3 separate regions of the Homo sapiens genome follow, and all the other regions are linked to region 2. Evidence: fine-mapped expression QTL. A gene starts in region 2. Each other region holds a variant in brackets. All regions are shown on one strand. Distances are from middle to middle.

Region 1 (2,844 bases), 37 kb after region 2:
TTCTTTCTAATAATGGCCCTGGTGCTTGCGCAAGTCTAGACTGTCAGCTCCCAGAGGGAAGGCGGCTGGCAGCTGGCTCTGCGCAGGCTGGGGGCGCCTCCCGGGCGTGCAGCCTGGCACAGGCTCCTTGACCTTGGCTCTCTCCCCACGTGCTAGGAGCCCGGTTGGGGGCTCGGGACCCGCGTGTAGGACCCGTCCAGAGAGGTCAGTGGTCCAGACTCCTACACTCCTAACACATGCACCCTCGCATGCACGTTCCCGAGCCCGCGCGGGGTCCGCCCCGGGACAAGCCCATAAGTCGCGAACCTTCCAGCTCCGTCTGCCCAGACAGGTGGCCCGGAGCGGGGACCCCCTCCCCTCGGCTGCCCCGCGCGCCTGGCCCAGCGAGGGCGGCTCCGGGGCGGGGCGGGGCCGGCGGCGGGAGGCCCCTCCCCGGGGGCGGGCCGGGGGCCGGGCGGGGGGGGGGACTGGCGGGGCCTGGGGGCGGGGCGGGGCGGGCGGCGCGGGGGTGTCCCTCCCTCCCTCGCTCTCCCCGGTAAAGTCTCGCGGTGCTGCCGGGCTCAGCCCCGTCTCCTCCTCTTGCTCCCTCGGCCGGGCGGCGGTGACTGTGCACCGACGTCGGCGCGGGCTGCACCGCCGCGTCCGCCCGCCCGCCAGCATGGCCACCACCGCCACCTGCACCCGTTTCACCGACGACTACCAGCTCTTCGAGGAGCTTGGCAAGTACGGCCCGCCCGCCGCGGTCCCCTGCCTGCCCTGCCGCCCGGGAGCTATGCGGCTTCTCGCCCCGCCCCCCGGCCCTGCACCGGCCGCTGCGGCTCCCCCTCGGCCGCCCCACCCCCGCCTTTCCCGCCCGCCGCCTTCGGTCCCCGCGCCCCCCGCGCACTGCCCCGCATCCCCCTCCGCGCCCTGCAGCAACTGGCGGGGCCGCTGCTCCCCACGCGCCGCCGCGGACACCGCAGACCCCGGACCGCTCCCGGGTGCCCTCCAGCCCCGCCCCTCCGCACCCTTCAGGCGCCCCCCTCCCGACCACCTCCCAACGCTGCCCGGTTGCTCACTCCGCACCCTGAACCCAGGTCCCACGCGCCTCGCACTCAGGACCCTCCCCAGCCCTGCAGCCCTAGCTCTGCTGCGGAGCCCGGGCGTGGGGGGGCTGTTTGGCGCCCGGCCCCGCCCCCCGCGGGTGCCGCTCCAGGCTCCCAGCCCCGCGGCTGGGCAGTGCTGCGGCACCCCCGTCCCCTCCCCCCACCCCTGCAGTGGTCCCGGGAGCCGCGCCGCAGCCTCAGCATCCCCCTCCCCTCCGCACTGAGCTGGCCGCTGCAGCAGCCCCGGCCCCCCACCCCCACCCGCGGCGCCGAGCCCGGCCACTGCAGCCCCCGCCCCGCCCGCCCCCCCAGACGTTTCCAGAGCTCAGAGTGCGAGCTCCCGTTTGACGGGGACGTCAAGGAAAATAGCATG[G/A]GAAGGGGAGTTCTTGATGTCTGACTGTGTCCTCTCTTCCCTTGCTGTCAGTTGAGCCGGGATGCAGTGAGATGAAACCGGCTGTGGGGGGGTTTGAGCCTCACTTTGCCCCATGGTTGAGGGAGATTTCTCTTTCAGGGGATGATACCCTCTTTTTAATCTTTCCTTCCCCGACCTTCAACTGTTCCTGCTGAGAGAAGGGCAGGGTCTCTCTGCTCCCTTCTGCCCTGGTTCTCTTGGCCGGGACCGCAGGGCTGTCTGAGATGCAGCAGGTGTGTGTTTTCAGCATCGCCCACCCGCTCCTGATGTGCAGCCTGAGGTGGAGGCTGTTGCCTTGCCCAGGGACTGGATGAGGGGGTGGGAGCGCGGCACGCCACCCACATCTGTTCAGTGTCCTGCGGTGGCCGCGTCCTTTTGCCTCATGTTGGATGGTGGTGGTCACAGCGCCGGTGTGTGTGCATGTACGTGAGTGTGACTAGAGGTCTGGTGGTGGGAGCATCATCGTCCCCAGACTTGAAGTGTGTCTGTGTCACTCTGCCCTGCTCCGTGTCCCAGTTCTTTTCCCCTTCTCCCTCCAGGGGTGCTTTCTCTGTGGTCCGCAGGTGTGTGAAGAAAACCTCCACGCAGGAGTACGCAGCAAAAATCATCAATACCAAGAAGTTGTCTGCCCGGGGTGAGTGTTCCCTGTCTTGACCTCTTCCTGAGGGTGCCTCCAGGGGCCATGGTTTCTTTTGAGGAAGCCCCAGGAATTGGGGGTTGTGCGTTTTAGCACTTGGAGAGGAGTTGGAATTTCAGACTGGTTGGACTTTGTGTCAGGCTGAAGCCAGAAAAGGAGTTGCATGGGGGACTGGAAGCGCCCAGGTACAAAAGAATGAAGGAAGAGATGCAAGTAGCTGCAGTGGCCCCCAAAGGCTCAAGGGAGTTCGGTCTTCAGGGAGGTGGAGGATATGGGGGTAGTGGGTGGTACAGAATGGGGAGCTCTTAATTTGGGGCATTTGGAGCCTCTCCCTTTGGGGCAGTGGTGGCTACTGCAGGCCTTTCCTGGTCCCTGTGCCCCAGTGGTGACTTAGGATGGAAATGCAGTAAGTGAGCAGCTCTGACAAAGCCAGCCTCCCCTGCCCACCAGGCGGCAGAACAGACTCCCAAGGGAAGGGAATCTGTAAACATCAGGGGAGGCTGCTACTGGCGAGGGCTTCTCAGGAACAAATTCTGCCAGATGAACTTGATTGCTTTTTTGATCAAATTACAAAGTTGGTGGTGCAGCAGCAGATGTAGTCTGTCCTGGGTGGAGGGTGATGCCTCATGGTCTAGAAATCCCAAAGGCCCGGTTTGGGCAGGAACTGCACTGCCTCCGAGTCTGAGGAGCATAAAGGCCAAGGCCTTGGG
Region 2 (2,844 bases):
TCTTGCCTCCCACCCATCCCTCCCTGTCCCCAAATTTCTCTCCCAGTTGCAGTGGAGATCCCCATACCTATTTCACAGTGCTGCCCTCCGAATTTCTTTGGGCAGTTGCACCAGTGAATGTTGGAGAAGTACTTGTTGGACACACATGTTCCTCCATTTAGACAGTCACAGTTCGCTGGAGAGAACAAAGGTGGGGTAAGCGAGGGGGAGTGGAAGTGGTAAGGGGTGGCGCAGCCCTGCAGCAGAGGGCAGGGAGGGGATGTCCCCTGAAGCCTTCCCAACTTGTCTGTGCAGCCAACTGTTGTAGGGGTGGATACTCACATGGAACTTGATGAAGTTCATTGCTGCCCTGGAAGAGATTCGGGAGGAGGCTTCATCAAAGGTCCCATGCTCCAGGGACTCCAGGGTGAGGGTAAACTGGCCCCAATCCCAAAACCCACTCTTCCCTCTCCCTCTCGCCTCACCCTGTTCGTATCTAGTTCTCAAATGGAAGACCATGGGTTTCCAGCCAGGAGAAATGGATTGACCCAAGCAAGCTTCATCTACCAGATGCCCGCAGGCTGGGGCAGTCCCGGCGGCCTCTTCCTCCCTTGCCAGCCAGTGCCAACCCCCGTGGTTCTCAAGCCTCCGCTGCCACCCTGTCCCATTTCCTGGGGAGAGTCTGGCCCTGCTGTGGATGGAATCCGGAGGACCCCAGCTCCCTGAGCAGCCCCTCCTCTCCCCTGGTGCTGATCAGAGGTCCTTGGGCAGCATCAGTCAAAGCAAGAGCGCACTCACTTTGGAGTCGCTCACGACCAGGACGCAGAGAAGCAGGCGCGCCAGCAGGGCTCTCATGGTGGCGAGGTCGGGGCGCTAGACGGCGGCTCTGCAAAGGAAGGAGAAGTCAGGGCAAGAGGCGGAGGAACGGGAAGGCAGGCCAGGCGGGCGACTGCAGCGCAGGGGAGATGCCCGCGGTGACCAGGCTCCCCAGCTGTCTCTCTCCTCTCTGGGCTCCGGACTCCGGGCAGCCTGGATCGGCACCCGCGGGGGACGCCCGGGACGGGGCGCCTTGACTCCGTGCAGCCGCCGGGGAGCCCAGGGAGCCCGGGCAGCCCAGGGCGGGGGAGGCAGACGCTCGGGAGCTGGGGCCGCCGCGCATCCGGCCCGGGGATCTCAGGACCGCGGCACTCACCGGTGGCTGCGGCAGGAGGGCGCGAGCCGGCGCTGCGGGGACAGGTGGACCCTGGCCCGGGCTCCGGGGCTGCGGTCTCCGCACTGTGCTGCGACCCGCGGCGCCTGCTCTATATCAGGGCCCGCCCCGGCGCCGCCCCTCCCTCTCCCGCCCGGCTCCCTCCCCTGTCTTGCAGCGCTCAGCGACCCGGACCCCGCGTGCTTCCGCAACGCTCACAAAGATTTGGGGGAAGCGCGATCTCCAGCGGAGGGGACCCAACAGCGTCTGGACTGAGGAATCGAGAGGCTTGTAAATTCTCCGTGCTTCCTCCCATGCACCTGGCCGGGGGCCTGCCCCAGTGCAAGGAGTCCCCGAATTGCAGAGAGGAGAGAAGGCGCACAGGAGACTCTCTACCTCGCCCAGCTCTGAAGCCTCCTGGGGTCCTCTAATCAGTTCTTCTGCAACTTCTCCCCGCTGGGCCCCAACTTGCCTAAGACTGCCTCAGACCCCCTTGCCCGCAGCTGATGGAGCTGTGAAGTCTTCATCAACGCGACAAATGTACGAGACATACTCTCCCAGAAGCACAGACAGAAAAACCCCTGCCTGTAGGGGCTCCCTCTGTGCGTCTGTTCAGTGGCAGTCCCCAGATATCACCAACACAACCAGTGGATGGAACAAAGCCGGGCTTATTGCTTTCGGCAGTAAGGGGGTTTGTTTGATGGTGCTATCAGAGGGGGAAAGGCAAGGCCAGATTACTGAAAATTTGCAGCTTGGTTTAAAGTCCGTTTTTGACAGGGCTTGATAAGGATTGGGTTAGGTGTCGTGATATGATGTTACAGGATTGTGGGAACAAAGTCCTAGGGCATAAACTGTTGGTGCTTCCTATTGAAGTGTTAACGGGTCTTTTGGGAAGTTTCCATAATGAGCAATTCATTTATTTGTGCAGGCAAGAATAAAAGTAAAGACAATGGAAACATGTAGACAGTTCTAACTGTGGAGGTTCTGGAGGGTGTGGAAGTTCTGTTCTCACCTCTGAGTAGAGGAATTGGGAGACTGGAGGACAAAATAAGAGGAAGATTTATTTTTCACTGTTTGTCCTTTTACACTCTTAACATTTTAAAAAGCACATCTCTGTATAGCCCATTCCAAAAAGATAATTATGCATTTTTTAATGCATGTGTATTTAGTGTTTTACTTCATCATAGAGCCTTGTTTATTCTATTCAGATAGAAACAATTGTTTATCAAATAAAATTGTCCTCCAGAAAAACAGACCATGTGTAAATGACTGCATCCACCCTTCCTGCCTGAGGATAAGCAGACATTTGTGTATACACACACACACACACACGCATCTCTGGGCACACTTGGAGGAACATAGCAGGGATTCTGTGATTCTGTCACCCCCATCTCTTTCCCCTAGTGTCAGGAACCAGGGCTTGGGGTCATTTTGAACCCAGTAGGACTCGCTCTCTTAGTGGGAAGGAGGAGGCTGAGTCCCAGCAATCCACTAGCGGCTTTGGGCCCTTTCCCAGCCTAGGCCTGCAGCATTTTCCTGCCTTGCAAATCTGGACCTTGGGTCTGGGTCCACCTGAGAGTGACAGAAGGAAGGCAGGGAGAGTGCCAGGAAGGTAGGAAGGAGGAAGGCTCCTTTGCTCTGCCCCAGCCGAGGGCTCAGGGTGCCAGCTGCCTGCT
Region 3 (2,500 bases), 100 kb before region 2:
ATCAAGAGAAATGGAGATTAAATAACTTCCCCAATGTTACCTATCTCGAAGGTGTCAACAATGGGATTTTAAAATAAGGAGTTTAATGCTTAACGATTATACTACTGTACTGCTTCCCAAAATTTTTATCATGTGCTGATTATCATATGCTGATTTATCTAGTATCTATATCTAAAGTGTGACTTTGGTATTTGCTAACTCATACTACCACATTTTGCCAAAGATGGCTATTCTGCTCATTTGCAAAAGATCAAAACTAATAGAGAATTCTACATCCATGTTTATTTTTTTATTCACACTTACATATTCTGTATAATCCTGTGCTGGGCTGTGCAGGATTATCCCCATCTGCACCCCAGGACTCTGTGCCTAAATTTTTTTCACTCAGAGAACACAAATTAGATGGTCCTTTTGCATGCAATGCCCTGTGTTAAGCAATTATTTACAGCTACTTTCCTAATTGGCAGTTAAATTTCACCAAGATTCAACCACAGCCTGATATATATTTCTCCAAAGAAGCTTAAAACAGTTTTTGATCGCAGCAGAAAATGGCCTTCCTATTTGTTTATTGAACAAATACTTTACTCCACAAGGCAAGATCCTACTATATGCCAAGCACTATGATGGATACTAAAAATTCAGAGACAAACACAGCAGAGCCAATATTTGCCCCTGAGGCTCTGGTGGGGAGATATGTTAAACAGTGAATAATCACACAAATAATTAATTACAATTGTGATAAGCATAATAAGGAAAAAATATAGAAAGTACATGATAGAAGGGCCTAACCTAGCTTAGAGGTAGTCAGGGAAAGTGTCCCTGAAAAATGGACATTTACTATGAAAACTGAGAATTAGTAGAAATTATCCAAGTAAAGAACTACAGAAGAGTACATCAGGCAGAAGGAAGGCCAACAGGAAGCACTGTACTTTGGAGGAAACAAAAACCCAGTGAGTTTGGGCAGCCACAAGCAGAAAGCAGCTGAGGCCAATGCTCAAAGGTCTCTTCCTAACTAGGTGGCCCACCATCTCCTCACTCCTCTCATACCATACCAGTCTCGATCTGCTGCTGGCCTACTGTGTGTGTGTCACTCTTCCCCCACGTCCCTACCACTTCACATCTTCTCCATGACTCCAAAGAAGAAAAACCACTGTATTTGTAGTAGTTAACACACAACTCTTTAAGAAGAATAATATAAATTCTGCAACAATTATATTGGTGGAGAGGATGTGAATAAATCTTTTTTATAAGATTATTGATTTCATCTGTGTTTTAGGCAACTTGAGGCCAGAGACCATATCTTATATATCCCAACACCTAGCAATGTGCATAGCTGGAGTTTGACAAGTAACTTTACTATTTGGGGAGAATTGTAGAATGAGAAATTTAAGTGTTGCTGATCTACATTTTTTCTTATGAGATTTACTAGCCTATTCATATACCCTTATCTATTTTAATTGCAAGAATAAAAACATGTTATCCACCTGGTAGATAAAAGATGAGCCAGTTCTCCAG[G/A]GATGGAGAGAGGACAAAGAGAAGGCTGGAAACACAAGAAAGCTATATAACAAAGGTCCCTCAACTCTCAACTCTAACAACTGTGCCATTTCTTTCTTCACAGAAAGCTTACTCATGGGAATAACTTAAGCTTATTTCAAAAGAAGGAATGACTTTGACTTGGATGGTGGCCAGCTGTGGTAAGAAGTGCAGTGAAATTCAGCCACTTTCCCCTTAAAAGTCATTCAACTGGAAATTTTATCAGTGGGAAATTCTCTAAGGGCCAAAGACTCTATTTTCTGCAGCTTAACAACATTTGTAAAACATTTCGAGTTCTAAGATTCACCACCTCTCTCCTCTATACACACACCCCACACTTATGCCAATCCAGTGTGCTAACTTCTGATAGAAGTGACATGGAATTTTTTGGAATCTAAAAGTTCAAAATATGTACCCAACACAATATAATATCGTTTATGAATCTTTGTTTCTCTTTGAGACTGTATAAATATTTGGTACATAGCAACATTTGAGGGCAGGAAAAGAGAAACATCATGCCTTCCAGTGGAGGCAAGAGATAATCAGCTATCCTTATTATCATAAAATAACCTAAAATGACTAGCTGGTATATTAAATATCAGAACATAACACACTTAATTGAAGAACTACCATGAGCAGGGGACTATGGTAAACACAGAACCAATAATATGAAGAATAAAACCCACTCCTTGCCCTTCAGAAACCAACAGTCTAAAGGGAGACACCCTAGGAGAGTAGGGAGGAGAGGGGGAAGAAAATTCGATATGAAATCCATCATCCAAGGACTGATGATCCAGTATATGAGGACATAAAATCTACATTTACCAAGGGACTTGAAAGAAGGCAGTGAGTTCCCCATTTCCTACGTCTAATTATACAAGTTCCTTTTTACCTAACACTCTATCCCACTCTACCTCTTTGCATACATGCAATGCACATACTTAATTTAATCAATGGTTATTTGATC

Alleles and levels. Alleles are on the strand shown, and positions count from the first base shown. SD is a standard deviation of normalised expression in the study named. Not every link is listed here.
In carriers of allele G in region 3, the expression in thyroid of the gene that starts at base 1,258 in region 2 tends to be higher than with A alone (moderate effect, 0.56 SD a copy in GTEx).

The links. PIP is the estimated chance that this variant, and not a neighbour inherited with it, causes the effect. A credible set is the group of variants that fine-mapping cannot tell apart.
Region 1: its variant is the best candidate, but not a certain one, in a credible set for the expression of PLAU in whole blood (INTERVAL, PIP 0.74).
Region 3: its variant is the best candidate, but not a certain one, in a credible set for the expression of PLAU in thyroid (GTEx, PIP 0.86).

The regions. Positions count from the first base shown.
Region 1 is chr10:73,872,276-73,875,119 of GRCh38, reverse strand. It overlaps CAMK2G (calcium/calmodulin dependent protein kinase II gamma), which reads left to right and starts at 565. Exons shown (of 23, transcript NM_001367534.1): 1 at 565-723; 2 at 2,037-2,131. The coding sequence starts at 659. RefSeq lists silencers at 173-452, 463-622, 683-852, 1,113-1,172. The variant G/A (reference allele first, on the strand shown) is at 1,459.
Region 2 is chr10:73,909,546-73,912,389 of GRCh38, reverse strand. PLAU (plasminogen activator, urokinase) reads right to left here and starts at 1,258. Exons shown (of 11, transcript NM_002658.6): 1 at 1,172-1,258; 2 at 778-865; 3 at 322-349; 4 at 68-175. The coding sequence starts at 834. C10orf55 (chromosome 10 putative open reading frame 55) reads left to right here. Exons shown (of 5, transcript NR_160938.1): 4 at 106-190; 5 at 295-2,421. RefSeq lists a silencer at 712-1,311 and enhancers at 2,277-2,844, 2,583-2,844.
Region 3 is chr10:74,011,199-74,013,698 of GRCh38, reverse strand. All of the region lies in intron 1 of VCL (vinculin), which reads right to left. Among named protein-coding and RNA genes, the nearest start is that of VCL, 14 kb to the right of the region's middle. The variant G/A (reference allele first, on the strand shown) is at 1,516.